Linked DNA regions of Homo sapiens: regions 2, 3 and 4 are each linked to region 1. The links come from fine-mapping of genetic effects on gene expression. A gene starts in region 1. Each other region holds a variant in brackets. All regions are shown on one strand. Distances are between the middles of the regions. Region 1 holds the start of MAP3K13 (mitogen-activated protein kinase kinase kinase 13). Region 2 overlaps MAP3K13 (mitogen-activated protein kinase kinase kinase 13). Region 3 overlaps EHHADH-AS1 (EHHADH antisense RNA 1). Region 4 has its middle 42 kb from the start of EHHADH.

Region 1 (5,155 bases):
TTTGGTGAGACAGCTTATCTTTCCAATGATTTCCCATGATAGTTGACATGGAGGAGTCTTTGTTGGCCTAGCTGATGTTCCTGTGGTACAGGAAGCATGCTAACTGAGGCCAAGTTTATCATCTTACTGAAGTGGCAAGTCCATAAAGCCCCCAAGTTTTTATTTTCCAGGTTATATATTGAGCCAAGAATCTTAGGTGACTGTTATTAGAAGCATTTATAGACCCTGTTTTGTTGAATTGCTTCAGAGACTACTCCCATCCATAGTGGACTTATTAGTAATTTTGTTGCTGTCAAAACTTACAGAAAAACTTCTACAACAGCTTTAGCTTTTTTTTTTTTTTTTTTTTTTTTTGAGAGAGGGAGTCTCACTCTGTCACCAGGCTGGAGTGCAGTGGTGTGATCTCAGCTCACTGCAACCTCTGCCTCCCAGATTCAAGCGATTCTCATGCCTCAGCTTCCCGAGTAGCTGGGATTACAGATGTGTGCCACCATGCCCAGCTAATTTTTGTATTTTTAGTAGAGATGGGGTTTCACCATGTTGGCCAGGCTTGTCTCAAACTCCTGACCTCAGATTTTATATGTATATGTGTATGTGTATATATATATATGTGTGTGTGTGTGTGTGTGTGTGTATACACACATATATACATATACATATATACAGATTTTATATGTGTGTGTATATATTATATATATATATACACACACACACAAATTGATGTTTCTTGGCTATTTTATTGACATAGTCCACAAAAAGTTTGCCTCTTTCCATTAGTTAGTCTGTATTGTTTTGGAAGAAAAAAATGTTTTCCATAAATCTGATTCTTTTAATGTATCCTGATTGGCTTTGGTTGTTGTTAAATAGAGATGTATATTCTTCAGCTTTCCATTTGTTCGTTTTTTGTTTTTTTTTTTTCTTTTTTCTTTGAGACGGAGTCTTGCTCTGTCACCCAGGCTGGAGTGCAGTGGCAAGATCTCGGCTCACTGCAAGCTCCGCCTCCCGGGTTCACGCCATTCTCCTGCCTCAGCCTCCCGAGTAGCTGGGGCTACAGGCGCCCACCATCACGCCCGGCTAATTTTGTTTTTGTATTTTTAGTAGAGACGGGGTTTCACCATGTTAGCCAGGATGGTCTCGATCCCTGACCTCGTGATCCGCCCACCTTGGCCTCCCAAAGTGTTGGGATTACAGGCATGAGCCACCGTGCCTTGCATGTTCGTTCTTAAATAATGTGGTACACTGAGGCCTACTGGGCGTGTACCAATGCCGTATTTGCCTTGAGCACTCCCATGTTACATGTGTAAACTTCTTTGGTCTATCTTTTTTGTAGTGATATTCCACAATAAGCTCCTTTAGAGAAGTTTGTTAACTATGTTGTTTGCCAACGATATTCTATTGCTTCAATATAGACAGTACACTGAATATCTTTGCTGTGTGTAAAATTATCCTGAAAAGTTTTCCTTTTCCAAATGAGCTAAGAAGTGTGCAATACTTACTAGTGGTCAGGTTTAGACCCTCCAGAACCACTTAGAAACAGGCCACCACTTTCCTTCTCTCACAGTTGTATAAATAATCTGATTGAGAAATAGAGCAGATCTCTGTTCAGAATGTTCTTGGTCACTGGACACCTCATAACTGAGGCTTTATATTAACCACGATCGTTCTAGTTTCAAGGATTGAGGCCATTTCCCAAGTTCAGAAAAATCATGATCAGTATTTGTCAAGTATTAGTCATTGTGAAGTGTAGTGATGGGGAGTAGGGACAATAAATATATTCATCTCCAATTTTGTATAACTGAAAAGTGTAAAAATAAAGAAGAAAGAGATGCCTCTTGAGTGAATTTAATACAGCTGTTTTTGCTGTTAATAATAAAACATCTTACTGAAACCAAAATTTGTTCAAAGTTTCATTAAGTGCCCTTTTGGAGCTGTGTCTTAATCGACTGCCAGAAGTTGAATAAACCAATGAGGAAACACTGTACCCTACTTAAAAGTAGCAGTAAATTTTTCTTCCATATCCACTTTTGATACATCATGAAGGTCAGCAAGATGTTACTGCTGTGCAAAACAGCTACATTCGTGTAATATTATTTTCCATATGTCTGTTTTCTTAGTTACTAGATTATTGTTCCCATGCGTTCTTCCCGACAATTTTGCTTTTACAAGTCCCGACAATTTTGCTTTTACAAGTCGTGGTGAGCAGGGCATACATGTCCACTAGTCTGCTAGTTTTAGAAATGGTTTTCCTGACTTTGATTTGTTTTGATCGCATCAGGCATATTGCTGAACAGTAAGAAAAGGGTTGAAGAAAAGAGTTCTAATGAATAAAAGATGGGATTTCTTCTATATGCATTTTTGTTATCCTTGATTCCACAGAAATTCTATTTTGATTCCTTCATTCAATAACAATAATAATGTTTTTATGACTATCACAGCTTGAAACACACACACACACACACACACACACGCACACACACACACACACACACACACTCAAGCTGCCAGTCTGTCTTAAGGCAGTGGCAGATGCCTGATTGGCGGGCTCTGTTTATTCTGTGACCAGATTCCTTCTAAAAGAAGGAAGGCCATGTCTGCCTGAAGCCTATTGGCTGGGCCTACTCTGGACCCGCCCCTCTTTTTTTTTTCATGACACACACCACAGCGAAGTCTGTGCGGAATCCTAAACCAGCCCAATTTACATCCATTCATGAATCTGTGACGTCAGCAAGCCTTTGGGCTCCTTTGCGGTGGGCTGGAGGATTGTGTGGGTGGAATCCCCCTCCCCTTTATTTTTCCAATTCTGCAAGGCTTTTAAAATTCACCTTACATCTTTTCAAAGCAAGAAAATGGAACAGCATGTGTAGGAATTCTTCGTTGTTGTGAGTATTGCACTCTGTTTTTCCTGTTTCTTCAGTATTTATTTCACAAGGACAGACAGAGAATGTGTGATTTGAGGTGATTAGAAAGCTGATATTATTGAGGGCGACACCGTGAGAGAGACAGAGAGACAGAGGCGGAGAGAAACCCGAAACCCCGTTACAGCTAGGAGCCTCTGAAACTGACAGCTGGTTTTCCTTTGCTTGTCTGCCTGCTAGACGTGGACATTTTTCATTTACGGTTCTGCACGTTACCTCGGATGCCTGCTTGGCTTTCCTTAAAGGGAGATTCATTTCTCTGAGAGATGATGTGGATGGTATTAGCAGAAAAGCCCAGAACACCAGAAAGGTGCTGAGAAAAGCGGGGCCCGCAAGACAGAGCAGGTTCTATCCTGTGGGGCACTTGTCTTCCTTGCGACCGTCCTTTCTGCCGTTCCTCACCCTTCACCTTGCCTTTGTTTCATATTGTGTAACAGTCAGTATCTTGCGATTGCAATTTGGTGAAGATGAATACTTGTTCAACCATTTTTCAAAAGCTCTTATGACGGGAGCCATAGTGGTGTATTTATATATATTCATAGCTCTTCTTTATGTCACTCTCTACACTTTATAGTGTCAAAAACTTAAAAAGCTGCATTCGAGGGAAAGGGGGAATTATCCTTAAACTTGGGTTTTTCAATATCCTCTAATGAAAACTAAGAAGTGGTTACAATGTTCCACAATTATATTGCATAGAAATGCACATGAGTGTTTTCCTAAGATGAACTTATTAGCTGAAAATAGTTTATTCCACTGTGTTGGGGAAACATGGAAAAGTTCTGATATGTTCCATGTATAAAGTTGGTTTGGTAGTTTGCTACTGTAGTTTTAACAAAAAGTTACTATTTGTGATTGAATTTGTTTTCCAAGGGTCTGTTTATTCTGGTGAAAGTTGTGAGAGTAAAGAAGAGGGATGTGACATTGTGACATGTTCTGCCCCTGGGGCAGCTCCTCAACCCGAATAATCTGACAGCATTTCCCAACTGCTTCACTTTGAGCGATTTATATGCCAGTCTGCAGCATGTACCCAGTTGTTCTTTCTCCTGAGAAAGCAAAATGCCTGATATTTCTTATAATCCAGGCTGCCATGTTTACCTTGTAAAATCAATACTTAATTTTTAGATTTTTATATTATCTTTTCTCGTGAAGCAAGACTTCTAAATTATGGCTATAATATCTTTTGAATTGTTGTTCTTAATGAATCTTCCAACTGTAAACTCATCTAATTTCAAACTTATCATACCTGAGGATGTAACATTGTCTTTTGTTTCTCATCTTGATATTACCGTCAATCATTTTGTATTTCTGAGTACATTTGAACTTGCTGGAGTAATAGAGGGAAAACCTCTGCCTGATTCTAAATCAGATCTTTGTCCTATACTCGGACAATTATGGTTTCATATTTTATTATTTTTTATTTTCTGGGTTTAACAAATGAGATAACATTTTAGACATAATATTTGTAAACATCTTGACTTATTTCAGCATTTTCCTTTTTTGTATATCTTCAGAGAGTTTGTTGAAAGTAGCAATTTCCAAGTAATTTTAAATTATTGAAGTCTACTAGCACGAAAGGTCAAATTCTTAGGATATTTAAAAAATGTTGTTTAATAATCAAACTCATCTTAAAAAATGTTCATCAGACTCTGTCTTTGATGCACATTTTGCCAAAAGAGAGCCTTATTTCTGTGAAAGAAATACAGTATGTACTTTGGATTTACTAAAGTAAAACTGTTACTTTAAGGCACAGAGCAGATATAGAATCCCCCTCTCTCCCCACTCCTAGTGACTGTATTCTACATTATATTTATCTTCATGTATAGTGTACTTGTAGGGAAAAAAACAATAACTCTTAATTGTTTAATATCAAACAATAAAATCCTGTGTATCAGTGACTGTCAATAGATGGCTTTCTGTTTAAAAACTGAAGCTACTCCAGAAGTAGGAATTAATTTATTTAGTAAACAAAGTCAGTCAAACCAGAGCCATGTCCTGGGGAACTGTCAAAAGAATGGTTCCTAAGGGCCAGAGGCCACATCCACTGGTAGATGACAGAACAACCATACTTCAGATGGCAAAACCGGTCAGTTTGGTTTGCGTTGTGTGCCTATCCTCTTTCTGTGTGCTTCAGCTGAATTAAGTGCTTGGAGAGCTCAAATAGTTCAAGATAGCCAAGATGACCAATTCTGCCAGGTGGCAGCCTGATCTTGCAATTTTGATTAAAATAAAGAACATTCCCC
Region 2 (5,155 bases), 26 kb after region 1:
ACACATGATCAAGTGGAACTTATTAAGATGGATCAGCATATGCAAATCAATAAATGTGATACCAGCAAAAAAAACTGTCAACAGAATAAACAGACAATCTACGGAATGGGAGAAAATTTTTGCAATCTATGCATCCAACAAAGGTCTAATATTCAGCATCTATAAGGAGCTTAAACAAATTTACAAGAAAAAAAACAAACATTCCCATTAAAAAGTGGGCAAAGGACATGAACAGACACTTCTCAAAAGAAGACATACATGTGGCCAACAAACATATCAAAAAAATCTCAACATCACTGATCATTAGAGAAATGCAAATCAAAACCATGATGAAATACCACCTCATACCAATCAGAATGGCTATTAAAAAGTCAAAAAACAACTGATGCTGGCAAGGTAGTGGAGAAAAGGGAATGCTCTGATACTGTTGGTGGGAGTGTAAACTAGTGGAAGATAATGTGGCTATTCCTAAAACACGTAGAGGTAAAAATACCATTTGACCCAGCAATCCTATTACTGGGTATATACCCAAAGGAATATAAATCACTCTACTCTAAAAACACATGCACGCGTATGTTCATTGCAGCACTATTCACAATAGCAAAGACAGGGAGTCAACCTAAATGCCCATCAATGATAGATTGGATAAAGAAAATGTGGTACATATACACCGTGGAACACTATGCAGCCATAAAAAGGAATAAGATCATGTTCTTTGCAGAGACATGGATGGAGCTGGAGGCCATTATCTTTAGCAAACTAATGCAGGAATAGAAAACCAAATACCACATGTTCTCACTTATAAGTGGGAACTAAATGATGAGAACACATGGACACATGGTGGGGAACAACACATACTGAATCCTGTCAGAGGGCAGGGGGTGGGAGAGGGAGGAGGATCAGGAAGAATAAGCTAGTGGATGCTGGGCTTAATGCCTGGGGAATGGGATGATGTGTGCAGCAAACTACCATGGCACACATTTACCTATGTAACAGACCTGCGCATCCTGCACATGTATCTCTGAACTTAAAATAAAAGTTGAAGAAAGAAAGGAAAAATAAATAAATGTGATACATCACATCAACATCAGCAGAATGAAGGACATATGCCATAGTTTGGATATGGTTTATTTGTTCCCACCAAATTTCATTTTGAAATTTGATTTTCAGTGTTGGAGGTGGGGCCTAATGGGAGATGTTTGGGTCATGGGGCAGATCCCTCATGAATATACTAATGCTCTTCCTTTCGGATCAGTGAGTTCTCACTCTATTAGTGCCTGTGAGTGCTGCTTGTTAAAAAGAGCCTGGCACCTCCCCACCTCTCTGTTGCTTCCTCTCTCTCTATGTGATCTCTGCACAAGTTGGCTTCCCTTTGCTTTCCACCGTGAGTGGAAGCAGCCTAATGCCCTCACCAGATGAAGATGCCCAGTCTTGAACTTTTTGAGGCATCAGAATCAGGAGCCAGGGAAACCTTTTTTTAAAAAATAAATTACCCAGCCTCGGGTATTCCTTTTTAAGAACACAAAATGGACTAAGACACCATATGATCACCTCAATAGATGCAGAAAAATTATTGATAAAATTCAACATCCCTTCATGATCAAAAACTTTCAACAAATTAGTCATAGAAGGATCATACCTCAACATAATAAAGACCACATGAGAGAAACTCACAGCTATCATCACACTGAATGGGGAAAGGTGAAAGCCTTTCCTCTAAGAACTAGAACAATATGGTCACTTTCACCAGTCTCATTCAACATAGCATGGGAAGTCCTAGCCTGAGCAATCAAGCAAAAGAAGGAAATAAACAGCATCCAAATTGGAAAAGAGGAAGTCAGATTTTTCCTCTTTGCAGATAACATGCTCTTATATATAGAAAATCCTAAAGACTTCACTAAAAAACTCACAGAACTGATTAACAAATTCAGGGAAGTTGCAGGATACGAAAATCAACATACATGAGACAAGAACTTAGGTGGTTAAAAAAGTTTAAAAATCAGTGCACAAAAATCAGTAGTTTACACAAAATATATACCAACAACAAACTAGCTGAAAAATAATCAAGAAAACAATCCCATTTACAATTGCTACCAAAAAAAAAAAAATCCCAACTAGGAATAAATGTAACCAAGGAGGTAAAAGACTTATACAAGAAAGCTACAAAACACTTATAAAAGAAATTAAAGAGGCCAGGCACCATAACTTATGCCTGTAATCCTAGCATTTTGGGAGGCTGAGGCAGGTGGATCACTTGAGTCCTGGAGTTCCAGACCAACCTGGGAAACGAGGCAAAATTTTGTCTCTACAAAAAATACAAAAAGTAGCCGGATGTGGTGGCATGCACCTGTAGTTCCAGCTACTCGGGAGGATGAGATGGGAGCATTGCTTGAGCCCAGGAGGCCGAGGCTGTAGCGAGCCATGATCACAGCACTGCACTCCAGCCTAGGTGACAGAGTGAGACCCTGGCTCAAAAAAAGAAAAAAGAAGAAGAAAATTGAAGAGAACACAAACAAATGGACAGCTATCACATGCTCATGGATCGGAAGAATTAATATTGTTAAAAATGGCCATATTACCCAAAGCAATCTAGAGAGTCAATGCCATCCCTATCAAAATACCAATGAT[G/A]TTCTTCACAGAAATAGACGAAGCAATCCTAAAATTCATACGGAACCACAAAAGACCCTGAATAGCCAAAGCAATACTGAACAAAAAGAACAAAGCTGGAGGCATCACAAAACCTGACTCCAAAATACACTACAAAGGCATAGTAACCAAAACAACATGGTATTGGTATAAAAACAGACACACAGACCAATGGATAGAATAGAACCAGAAATAAATTCATTTCTCAAATTTTCATAATATTGTTACATTGTTTTTTAAATGTTACACCTTAAAATTTGTGTCATATTCGTTCTTTCAGAGGTACCTCTTTTTTACTTCCCTGAGCAGCAGAGGCAGTACATTCTGGTTAGGGAGTTGACCTTCTTAGAAAAGACCTTTTAGACATCAGTGTATGAGAGTATGTTCTCTGCGTTAAACAAAATAAAAGTTGCTCTAATTGACAATATGAACATCCAAGAGTCATTCAGAATTACAAACCTCTGGTAAAGGTAAACTAGGTACTTAATAGATACTATGAGCACCATGCTTTGTAAATGATTTGTCTTGCCTAATCATAGCCTTCCAAATTTCTGTACACAATCCCATTCTTTCAAAGGGGTTACAAGTTTGGCCTCTAAAGTGAGACAATGCTAGTTGAGTCTTAGTATTTCCATTTATTAGCTGTATGCCTTGGGTAAGTTATTTAAAGTCTCTAAGTTTCTCCTATGTATATAATAGGAATAATTACAGAACCTAACAGGGGTTAAATGAGATAAGGTACATAAAGTCTGAGCATAATGCATCACAAATACTAAGCCCTGAACAAATGATAGTTGCTAATATATATTAGCTTCTTTCTTTTCATTTATTGTCTAACCATGTAAAAAAGACTGCCAGTTGATACCTGGGGGAAATTTTTTTTTAAAAAAAGATAGAAAAGAAAAAGAAAAAAAATACAATAGTATTCCTGTCCACAAGAATTCACAGTCTACTTGGAGAGATTGACACATACGCCGTATTTTAGTCGGGCAGCAATTCTCAAACTTTTTGGTTTCAGGACCGATAAAAAAAAAAAATGAGGACCCCAAACCAAAGGGCTTTTGTTTATGTGAGTTATATCGTCTATATTTACCATATTAGAAACTAAAACAAAAAATTTGTTAAGTATTTATTAATTTATTTTAAAAATAATAAACCTATCATACAGTAACATAAAGAACATTTTCTTTCATGAAAAAAGAACTACAGTTTCCAAACCTTCACAATTTTTTGTGAGGAGAGTGGTATTGTGAAAAGAGGTCTTTGCAAATGTCTTTAATGTCCGACTTAATAGATGATAACTGGATTCTCATATCTGCTTCTGCTTTCAATCTGTTGTGATATCAAATGGTATATAGTGGCCACGGGGGATCTCCACTGTCTACTTGTGAGAGAATGTGATAAACAGGAAAATAATATCTTATTATTATGTAAATAATTCACAGACCCCCTGAAAGATCTCAGAGGTCCCCAGGAGTTCCCAGAGCATACTATAAGCACCATTGCGTAGGGTGTGAGTAATAGCTAATATCTCTATTGGATTTAGTGTGTGCCAGACACTGTTCACAGTGCTTTACATATTTAATTCTCACAGCAGCTCTGTGTGGTGGGTGCTATTGTTATTATCTCTAATTTCCAGTTGAAACCAAAGCACAAAGAGAGTAAATTCATCAAGGTGGAGTCAGCATTCAGTTTCAGACTGTCTGGCTTCAGGGTCCAAACTCTTTTCTGTGCCACTGCGCAGCCTCCCTCCTTGGCAAGTGAGCACAGTTTCATAGAGAAAATAACATTTTTCTTAAAGGCTACGCAAAGATGGAGGTTCTAATAGACAACCCTTAGAGAATAGTTTATTGTTACTCATTACAAAGCAGGATTTTATTCTTGTGAATGTTTTCAACCTTCAGCTTTATCTCCTAAGTTTCTTTGAAATCACTTTACAGTCAGAATTTTTTTTTTTTTTTTTTTTTGAGACAGAGTCTTGCTCTGTCGCCAGGCTGGAGTGCAGTGGCACAATCTCAGCTCACTGTAACCTCTGCCTCCCAGGTTCAAGTGATTCTCCTGCCTCAGCCTCCTGAGTAGCTGGGACTACAGGCGCCCACCACCACGCCCAGCTAATTTTTGTATTTTTGGTAGAGATGGGGTTTACCATGTTGGCCAGGATGGTCTCGATCTTTTGACCTCATGATCGGCCTGCCTCGGCCTCACAAAGTGCTGGGATTACAGGCGTGAGCCACTGCGCTGGGCCGATATTTTCCTTTCTTATACCTGCATCAACAGCACCATCCTACACATCCCGGTCTGTCCAAGGTTCATACCAATAGCTGCCAGTTACTGCAATTTCAATACTGAAGGCAGGATTTTGCCCTTTCTTTTTTTGTTATGATAAAATACCCATAGCATAACATTTACAGTTTTAGCCATTTGAAGTGTCCAGTTCAACGGCATTAAGTACATTGATGTTGTTGTGCAACCATCACCACTGCCATCCATCCACAGAACTCTTTTCATT
Region 3 (5,155 bases), 190 kb before region 1:
TTGTATGTACATACATGTGTGTATGTGCGTGTATCTATTATATATTCTATGTACGTATACTGTTTTATGTATATATGCCAATATGAAACTGATATCTAATAAGGAAATACAAAAAATAAATTTTATTGTTGCTAGTACAACCAAAACAGATTAAACACATGGGGTTGATTTAACTTATAGTAAGGTTTGTTCAGAGAAATTACAGAGGACGTTGTTAATAAATCAAGTTCCATATCTGATTAGAAAAGTGAATAAAATAGTATTTCCTAGGCAACATGTAGATTTACCAATTAAAGCCTCGGCAGGTTAACTTCAAGTGTCTAACAAAATAAGAGGGCAATTCAGCTGGATAATAGCAAGAAGAATGCCAAAGAATACTTATTTTAGAGGATGTAATGATTATTGATTCACACTATTGTATATTTTTGGCTGTACTAAATTTTAATATATGTTACAAAGTCATCATTATAAAAGCAGTGGAGCATTAAATTAAAAATAGAATAAGTTACTGAATCTGAAATAAACAGATTTAACACATTAATTCAAACGCTAAGAGCTTAATATATGACAAAACAGAAGGAGTACAGTATGGAAAAGAATCATGACAAAATGCTATTGGTATAAAGAAGCATTTACATATATATTTATACATATATGTGTATGTGTGTATATATATAGATAGAGAGAGAGAGAGAGAGTGCAATTAAGAACAGTATTTTGGACTCAGATAGTCTTTGGCAAGTTCCTTAAAATTTCTGTCTCCTTTTCCTTAGTGGTAAAATGGGACCCATAATACGTATCTTGAGGGTACTTTTGCAGAATAACTCAGTTATTGTACATAAAGCACTTAGCATAATGCCAGGAACATAGTAAACAGTTATTATCATGAGTCAGAGTGTTAAATATAAACTAGAACCAACTGGTTAAATGCTCTAGAAACACAAACAGGAAAACATGTTCCCAGTGGAAGAAGGGAAACAAATTTCTGATTATGGAAGCATGCAGGGCAGTATCATAGACAAGATGGATGTTCAAAATGTTAAAAAAAGAAGAAGAAAAAACTTATAAACAAAACATATTATTGAGAGTAAACACAAATTGTTGAGCTCCTAAATGAAGTAGTTTTGGAAACAGCAGTGCCAGGCCAGTGGAGATGGGCTAAGTTTCAGGATGGCCTGAAATCTCCCTATTTGTCAAACAGCCCTCCCAGAGCTGTGCCTGAGAAGGAAAGTTCATGGACCTTTCATGTGACCCCAAAGGCAATCAATCCCAGTGAAAGTGGTCCTCCTTCCCATTCTATCATCCTCTTGGGCTAGGTCTGTCGAGAGCCCTGTGGCCCCTCCTTCTCCAGCTTGGGATGCAGAGGCGCTTCATCTGGGCTGGATGGACTTGTGGTTCTCACTGGTCACCCAAGAGCTGTGCCATCACCCTCTGCTCCCAGGGCTGCTCCTCTGGCACATTTCCAGCCAGTCCAGCTGCCCCTTTAGCTTGCCCCATGGTCCAATGTCTCTTTACTCCTTTACATTAGCTGATGAATGTTCATTGCCTCACTGTTTTTTCGTTCTACTAATCTGGAATTTCATGTCATTCCCACAGCCCCAGCCCAGTCAATACACTCAATGCAATATCGTAATTCATATCCCTAAACCCCACTTTTCCTTTCTTCATCTGGATAATTACTTTATCCTGTATGACTCAAGTCACTCCAGGAGGCTTTCCTTGACACATCCTAGCTGAGCTCAGAGTCCCTCTTGTAAGAATCATGGCAGCCGGTACACCTTGATTAGACTGTAAATTCCTTGTGTGCCAGCGACAGTCAGAGCTCTTAGGCATCTTTGTTCCAAGCACAGTGCCTGCCCCACGGGAGTCCTAAGAAAGATTTGTGCCATTTGCTGCTGTCTCTCCCACTGCTGGGCACTAGCTTTGACTCCACTGTCTGTCCTACTGAAACTGCACGTACTAGTTTGGGCAGTGGTTCCCCAACCTGACTGTACATTGACACTTCCTGAGGAGTGCATAAAAATACCAGTTCCCTGGGCCAAGTCAGTCAGAATCTCCGGGGTAGTATTTTTTCAGAACTCCCCAGATTGTTCTTCTGTGCATCCAGAGTTGAGAACCACCAGTTTAGGACATTATTCAGAGCCCAACTAAGAGATTTTAATTCTGAGTCTGACTAGGGCACATGGGAAGCGCACCCCTGCTGACATGGTTGGTTGCTACGCAGAGCCTAGGGGAGTCAGGAAGCATCCCAGCTCCCTCTCAGTGCCCCTCTCTCCACACCCCCACCCCCATGAGGCTGAATACTTAGTGC[A/G]ATCACTTTCACTTCTCCTTGGAGGGTAGCTGTTTAAACCCTTTTTCTGGGAACTGGCTCTGAACCTGCCTCAGCAATTCACATGCACTCCCATCATTGGCTCTAATCAGAGGGGCGGGGCACTTTACCTGTCATTATAGTACCTCGTTTCTCAGATATTCCCTTTAAGTGGAAGCATAGCACAGCAGTAATTCGGCGGATCCAATGAGAACCTGACAGGTATATAATTTTAGGGGCCCTTTTTAAGGAAAAGAGTACAAGATTACAAATCACAAAATTGCCAGGGCCTTCCTGAAGTCTTGGAAAGAGCCCCTGCCAAGAGCTGTAAGCTTTGCTAGCTTCGGAGTAAATCTGCTTCTGAGAATAATGGCTGCCATTTATTGTGTCAATATGTATCCGAGACTTTTTATATATAGCTGTGCTTACAACAAACAAGCAAGGATGTATTATCCTCCTTTTACAAACAAGGAAACTCAGGCAGGGAAAAAATTCGTTGTTTATTTCAGGTCGCATATGTGAGACTAGAATTCAAACTCATTTCTGACTGGCTTGTGAACTCAAAATCTTTCCACCACACTAACAAATTCCAGCATCTACAAAGGTTATGCACGCCGGGGACCCAGAAGAAGCAAGCAAATCCATATATATACTGAGTATTCTACGTAGACTGAAAAATTAATGTGACTTGCATATGTGTGGGCCACTTTTTACATTATGTAGGTGCCGCTGTAATTAATCAAGTCATTTGAAAGCACGTGTTACTCAATAGCTTCAATTATAGTGTCTTTTCTCAATCAACAGATACAAAAGGTACAACCCCCCCTTTTTTTTTTTTGAGACGGAATCTCGCTCTTGTTGCCCCGGGTGGAGTGCAATGGCACGATCTTGGCTCACTGTAACCTCCACTACCCGGGTTCAAGTGATTCTCCTGCCTCAGCCTCCTGAGTAGCTGGGATTACAGGTGCACACCACCATCTGGAGCTAATTCTTGTATTTTTAGTAGAGACGGGGTTTCACCATGTTGGCCAGGCTGCTCTAAAACTCATGACCTCAGGTGATCTGCCTGCCTCGGCCTCCCAAAGTGCTGGGATTTCAGGCGTGAGCCACCACACCCGGCCTAAAGGTACAACTCTTATATGAGCATCTGCAAAACTTGGTTGTGTTAAAAAGGAAGCATGGTGCTGGAAAGTATCGGAAGCTCACTGTATTAATGGTGAAGTGGTACAGCTCATGTTCCCTGAGCCTGTCGTGGTCAGGCTCTTTCCACAGGGCTCCAAATTCTCAAACAGTGGTCTCTAAAATGGGGGATTACAAGACAATCTATTGGAGTCAAGGAAGAAAATATCAGAAATTATATTTATATTTATTTTTAACATTGCCTTTTAAAATGTCCGTATATGTTTGTGTTTCATGAGGTATATACTAATGTTATTACAGTAGCATATGTGTGTGATTTATAAATAAGTACAAATTGCATAGCATAATAATTAGTAGCATAGACTCTAGAGCCAGATTGCCCACGTTAAAATCTTGGGTTTATCACCCAGAGACGGGTTGATAGGTGCAGCAAACCACCATGGCACATGTATACCTATGTAACAAACCTGCATGTTCAGCACATGTATCCCACAACTTACAGTAAAAAAAAAACCAAAAAACAAAAAAACAGCTGGGCACAGTGGTGCATGCCTGTAATCCCAGCACTTTGGGAGGCCGAGGCAGGCAGATCACGAGGTCAAGAGATCGAGACCACCCTGGCCAACACGGTGAAACCCCCATCTCTAAAAATACAAAAATTAGCTGGGCATGGTGGCGCACACCTATAGTCCCAGCTGCTCAGGAGGCTGAGGCAGGAGAATCACTTTAACCCAGGAGGCGGAGGTTGCAGTGAGCCGAGATTGCGCCACTGCACTCCAGCCTGGCAACAGAGCAAGACTCCGTCTCAAAACAAAAACAAAATCAAAAACAAAACAAAAAACAAATAAACAAACAAAAAACTTGGGTTTATCTCTGTGTGTCCTTGGAAAAGTAATCTTTCTGTGCTTCAGTTTCCTCATCTGTAAAACGGTGATAATAATACTGGAATGCCTACTGCATAGGGGTATTGTGAGAATTAAATGAGTTAATACAAGCAGAATATTTAGAATGCTGCTCTGCAATATTAGGGGTGGTGTATGTTTTTTCAATGATAAATACAGTGATCCACAGATGATGAACTTGATGGGTGGACAGAGAGAGTGTGCTGTCCTGTTCTGATTTTAGGAAAACAAAAGAAAAAAGGACAATTATTATTATGCATATACACATATTTTAAGGTATATTAAAGATGCATTTTGTGTCTGTCTCTTTCTCTCGTCTGTCTCTCTTTAACCCAAAAACGGTGTGGTTTTACACATTTGGCAATTATGGCTCCAAATATTCTACTAACTAGAGGCACAAAAACAAACAGCTCTGGGGCATCAGAGCAAGACCACTCCCCAAATTGCCCCTTTCGCTTAAGCCAGCCTCTAGCCTTGGAATCTGGCTAGCACTGCCAGGTTGCCTAAGTCCACAAGCAGTAAAAGAGGGCCCTAGTATGCTGGGGTTATTTATCTTGGTGTTGTCCTCTGGCCCAGCCCTGCCCAGGAACAGGAGACAGACGGCCACACAGAGCCTTGCCTCTGATAACTGGGGGGTGGAGAGGTTGAGAAACAACGCTTCACTCAGCAACTTCCTGCTCCCTCCGAGGAAGAAGAAAGGGGTGTCTGTGCTAGAGCCACTCCCTTGCCAGCAGCCCAGCAGAACAGCTGCTGATCCTCTGCATCCCCACGTCCCGGCGGAGGCCCTGGGAAGTGGGAACATCAG
Region 4 (5,155 bases), 67 kb before region 1:
CTTGGCCTCCCAAAGTGCTGGGATTACAGACATGAGCCACTGTGCCCGCCCATCAGTTGCTGTTCTTGGAGTACCATTTTGGCACTAATGCCTTCCTACACATTTGGATTCCTAGGAGACTCAGCATTTTTTTTCACTTTATGCTACTACTCGTGACAAAGAATTTAATATCAATTTGACTTATGGTGTAATTGAAATATTTTTTATTTTGTAGCACAGAGAAAGCCTATATGCCTTATGGATATTTAATATTTTAATATCTATTCTGATAATAGCATTTAAAAGGTTGCTTCAACCTCTACTAGCAGAAGGATTGTGTCAAATATTTTGCTTTTTAATTTTTTTTTACTTGTATCTTTCTGGCCTAATGGCAAACAAAACCCTCCTTTTAGCATTACTTGAGGACTAAGTAGAGAGAGGCTATCGAGAATGTAGTTAGCATGACTGGGAATTTGATGGTCTCTGGAAAAGAAAATGCCATTTCTTTTCTTTCTCTGAGTAACTAGGTTTATCTTTAGTTTAATGATTTAAGATAAATAAGTCACTGACATTAACTTGTTCAACTGTTACTCCTAAAAATAGATATCTCCCTCTTTGATGATAGCATTGGTTAGGTTAGCATAGGTGACTTTATTATAGTGTCCGTGAACAATAGGGCATGGTTGTGCTTTCCAATTCATTGATGAAGAACTAATTTTTTAGTGCTTTAGTGTACTGAAATGCTGTCTTTAGTGCCCTGGAATTACTTATTTAAACTGTGATAGAAGGTTGTACAAGGTATTACTTTTCTCTGCTTATAAATTATATGAATGTACATAGTCCTAGCAATATGAATATTTATCAGAAGATGTATAATGTAGAATCCAACTGCCTCATTCTTCCTGAACAGCCATGGCCAAACTTCTTGCATTAATGGAGACAGAATGAATTGCAAAGGTTGTATAAATCGAGGCTGTTATGTTTATGACAATTGGCAGCTGTGGCATAAAAGGCTCATTACTATATGTAATTGACATTTTGTTGTTCCTTCTTCCTCCACTCCTTTGCCAAAAAATGGCATTGGTATTACTACCTCTCCATGTAGGAAGTAGGATCTACCTATGAGAAAGTTCAAGAGAGTAGTTAAGCAACTTCAGCTATCCCTGACCTTCTTCCACAACCCTCATGAAACTAATCCATTGCAAAATTCTGTCTTTTCTACTTCCTAAATATCTTTCAAATTATTCACCTGTTTCCATGTCCATCCTTATTTATTTTATCATCTTCGCCTACATTTTTGCAATAACTCTTCAATGGTTTTTTGTATTTACTCCTCCCCCCTCTAATCTCATTGCTTTTAGACTGATTTTTAAAAATACAATTCTAATCTTTTTGGTCCTCCAATCTAAACTCTTATTATCTTATTGCCCTTAGAATTCAGCCCCAAATCTTCAATCATTCTTTGTCTACTAAGCTCAAGCCATAATGGTCTTCCAATTCTCTGACAATGCCATTTTTTTTTCTTCAGGGTATTTGTTGTTGTTTTTGTTGTTGTTGTTGTTGTTGTTTTTGAGACGGAGTTTTGCTCTGTCGCCCAGGCTGGAGTGCAGTGGTGCAATCTTGGCTCACTGCAACCTCCGCCTCCCAGGTTCAAGCAGTTCTCTGCCTCTGCCTCCCAAGTAGCTGGGATTATAGGCGCCCGCCACTATGCCTGGCTAATTTTTGTATTTTTAGTAGAGATGGGGTTTCACCATGTGGGCCAGGCTGGTCTTGAACTCCTGACCTCGTGATCCACCCACCTGGGCCTCCCAAAGTGCTGGGATTACAGGCGTAAGCCACAGCGCCCAGCCTTCTTTAGGGCTTTTGCAGAGCAGATACTTTCTGCTTGGAATGCCCTCCTCTCTCCTGTTCCTCTTCACATAACCCACTTCTACTCATACTACCAGTCTCACTTTAAATATTATTTTTTCCAAGAAGCCTTCCTCCATATCTCAGACTAGATTAGACCTCCCTTCTCTATCATTCTGTCATAAATCACCCATTTTTTTCTCACATCTAGCATAGTTGTAATTATTTCTCATATATAATCATTTATTAATAATCTTACAAGACAACCTTCAGGAGGGCAATGACTGGTGCATGTTTTATTACACTGTATGCCCAGTGTTTAGGAAATTTCCTGGCAAATAGTAGGGATTCAGTAAATATTTGTCAACTGATTCTTCCCACAGCCACCACTCTTCACTTAGATATTTCAGTACTGTAAGTTCTGGGTTGTTTAACTTCCTCTGTTCAAAACCCTCCTCTTGACTGA[C/G]TGCAGTGCTCACGACTGCAATTCCAGCACTTTCGGAGGCCAAGGCAGGAGGATTGCTTGAGGCCAGGAGTTCAAGACCAGCAACACAGTGAGACTCCAGTCTCTACAAAATAAAAATAATTTAAAAATGAGCCGGGCATTGTGGCACACACCTGTAGTCCCAGCTACTCAGGAGGCTGAGGTGGAAGGATTGCTGGAGCCCAGGAGGTCCAGGCTGCGGTGAGCCATGATTGTGCCACTGCACTCCAGCCTGGGTAACAGAGCAAGACCCTGTCTCAAACACACAAACCAAAACCCTTCAGTTGCTTCTCATCTCACTCCAAGTATGAGCCCAAGTCCTTATAATGGTCTCCAGGGCCTTACCTGATATGCCTCTGCTCTCTCCTTACCTCTCTACCATCTATTGGACTACCCAGCCCAGATCTCTTAGCTGATCCTTAGAAATGCCAAGCTTCCTTCTGCCTCAGGACCTTTGTACTTGATATTCCCTGTGCCTGGAATACCCTTGCCTTAGATATCTATCTGGTTTAATCTCTCATCTTCTTTAGGCCCTTCAGGTTATGTGACCTCAGTGAGGCCCTCTTTGACCATCTTATTTAAAATTGTAACCTCACTACATGGCATCCCTAGTCTTCTCTGCTTTACTGTTCTCCATTGTACTTATCTCTGATTGGCATTCTCTTCATAGGTATTTTCCCCAGTGTTGAGAACAGTGACTGACACATGGTGGGCCCTTAGAACTTATTTATTAGTTGAGTGAATTTAACCTGTACTCACAGAGATGCATATTTGGGACAATGAGACCTGTAGCCCAAATTATGAGGACTTAATATTTCAAGATGATTTTACAAGATGAATTAATTAAATTTATTTATATCCTGCCTTGTTCTAAAAAATATTTTAAAATGCATATAGTATGTAGGATGGGGACATAAAGAGAATAAGACAAAGCAAATGTAATAGTATTAAAGTGGGTAAAGTTAATGTACAGAAGGTCCTGCACAGTGGCTAAAGTCATGTTATAAATTTGACTTATTAGAGAGTTAGGTTGCTCAGAAATGATTGAACTGGAATCAAGAATTTGTTCTCTGGCACAGGTCACAGATATTTGAGTCTTACATAGAAACCCAGAAAACCTATTTAACTATAAGACATTGTGCAGTTACTCTTCTAAAAAAAAACTTGCTTTCTGTATTAGGAAATTTCCTATTGGCATAAAATGTACACAGTCTGTCCATTACAAAGGCTCTGCTACATTTGAGAGATGGTAGTCACAGCTACTACCTCTGCTTATGTCATGTCCAGGACATTCCCAAGGTTGATTTAAACCTAGTAATTGGATATTTTTGAAAGCTGTGAAAAATACCAACCAGCACATCAATTACCCCAGTTTCTCCTCCTCTAATCATGAGGTAGCATGAGAGTCCAGTGGTTGTGGCTTCCTTCCTTTTGAGGTAGATAATTGGCAACTTAGAAATAGGTTATTGGCTGGGCGCAGTGACTCACACCTGTAATCCCAGCATTTTGGGAGGACAAGGCAGGCAGATCACCTGAGGTCAGGAGTTCGAGACCAGCCTGGCCAACATGGTGAAACCCTGTCTCTACTAATAATACAAAAATCAGCCAGGTGTGGTGGCACATGCCTGTAATCCCAGCTACTCGGGAGACTGAGGTGGGAGAATCTCTTGAACCCAGGAGGCGGAGGTTGCAATGAGCTGAGACCGTGCCACTGCACTCCAGTCTGGGCAACACAGTGAGACTCCGTCTCAAAAAAAAAAAAAAAGAAAAGAAAAGAAAAAGAAACAGGTTCTTATGTAGTCACAACTAAACAGGGTAGGAAGATTGGGAGTTAGATGAATTAGACTTCAAGAAATTTTTCACCAATACAGTAACCAAAATAAGAGCTACTCTCTCTCTCTCTCTCTGTGTGCATACAATTAATAGATATTGTACAGTACATGTCTTTCTGTTCATGGTATGTATAGTTTCCTAATTCTGTCTTTTTTTTTTTTTGTCTTTTAAAACTGAGTCTGAGAATTATTGCCATGTCTGCAGGCCAGAGATAAAGCAGGGAACGTGGCGACGGACTACAGGCCTTTCAGTAAACTCTGCAGTACCTCACTAAACAAAGCTGGTATTTTTGAGGCAAAAGATAAGAATATTTAGCTAAATGGTGTTCCACTTGCAAAATGTGCTAGTTCTTATTTGATTTTTTTCTTCTTTCTTAGAAAGCTTTCTCTTTTCTATCTTTTACTTAGAGATAAATATTACATTTGAAGTCACATCTGTCCCACACCATTTTTTTCAGGGTTGAAAGAGGAAAACTAAATGAACCATAGACTTAGGGAAATAATGGAAATATGTATGTTTTAAAAAAACCATTTATGTTCCACGTATTTCAAGGAAAGGAAATGAGGAGAAACATTAAGAACACCACAGAACCATTAAAATGGACAACTCAAAGGGAAAGTATTTTACCAAAAGCATTATGTATAACATGTTGCTGATTAAATTTGTGTTGTTATATTTAATGTGTAAGTATACATTATCCTAACTAATTTAAAATATGTTTATTGAATTTACTTTACATATTTTATTTATTTGATGGAACTTTATGTTCATTTTTTAAGAAGTCAAGTATCTCCTCATTTTGGCATTTGATGAGTAACGGGAGAAAACCTGAGAAGAGACAGAAGTAATGCAAAGGTCACCGTATCTTCCAGCATAAGTGATGTAGAAACAGAAAGATCTTATTTTCAGTCAAAGTGGTGAAGTGGCAGAAAGAAAATATCCCCCAACTGGTTTGCTGACACTAATTTTGCCATATAGTGAGGACAAAAAAAACATGTCTAGGCGTTTAAC

The links. PIP is the estimated chance that this variant, and not a neighbour inherited with it, causes the effect.
Region 2: its variant is the best candidate, but not a certain one, in a credible set for the expression of MAP3K13 in whole blood (TOPMed, PIP 0.52).
Region 3: its variant is the best candidate, but not a certain one, in a credible set for the expression of MAP3K13 in monocytes (BLUEPRINT, PIP 0.66).
Region 4: its variant is the best candidate, but not a certain one, in a credible set for the expression of MAP3K13 in whole blood (INTERVAL, PIP 0.74).

The regions. Positions count from the first base shown.
Region 1 is chr3:185,360,490-185,365,644 of GRCh38, forward strand. MAP3K13 (mitogen-activated protein kinase kinase kinase 13) reads left to right here and starts at 2,647. Exons shown (of 14, transcript NM_004721.5): 1 at 2,647-2,879. RefSeq lists a silencer at 2,479-2,628 and enhancers at 3,099-3,188, 3,279-3,338.
Region 2 is chr3:185,386,030-185,391,184 of GRCh38, forward strand. The region is part of intron 1 of MAP3K13 (mitogen-activated protein kinase kinase kinase 13); the gene reads left to right. Among named protein-coding and RNA genes, the nearest start is that of MAP3K13, 25 kb to the left of the region's middle. The variant G/A (reference allele first, on the strand shown) is at 2,629.
Region 3 is chr3:185,170,591-185,175,745 of GRCh38, forward strand. All of the region lies in intron 1 of EHHADH-AS1 (EHHADH antisense RNA 1), which reads left to right. Among named protein-coding and RNA genes, the nearest start is that of EHHADH-AS1, 10 kb to the left of the region's middle. RefSeq lists enhancers at 4,620-5,144, 4,891-5,155, 5,145-5,155. The variant A/G (reference allele first, on the strand shown) is at 2,312.
Region 4 is chr3:185,293,674-185,298,828 of GRCh38, forward strand. It overlaps a transcript of MAP3K13 not described here. Among named protein-coding and RNA genes, the nearest start is that of EHHADH, 42 kb to the left of the region's middle. The variant C/G (reference allele first, on the strand shown) is at 2,294.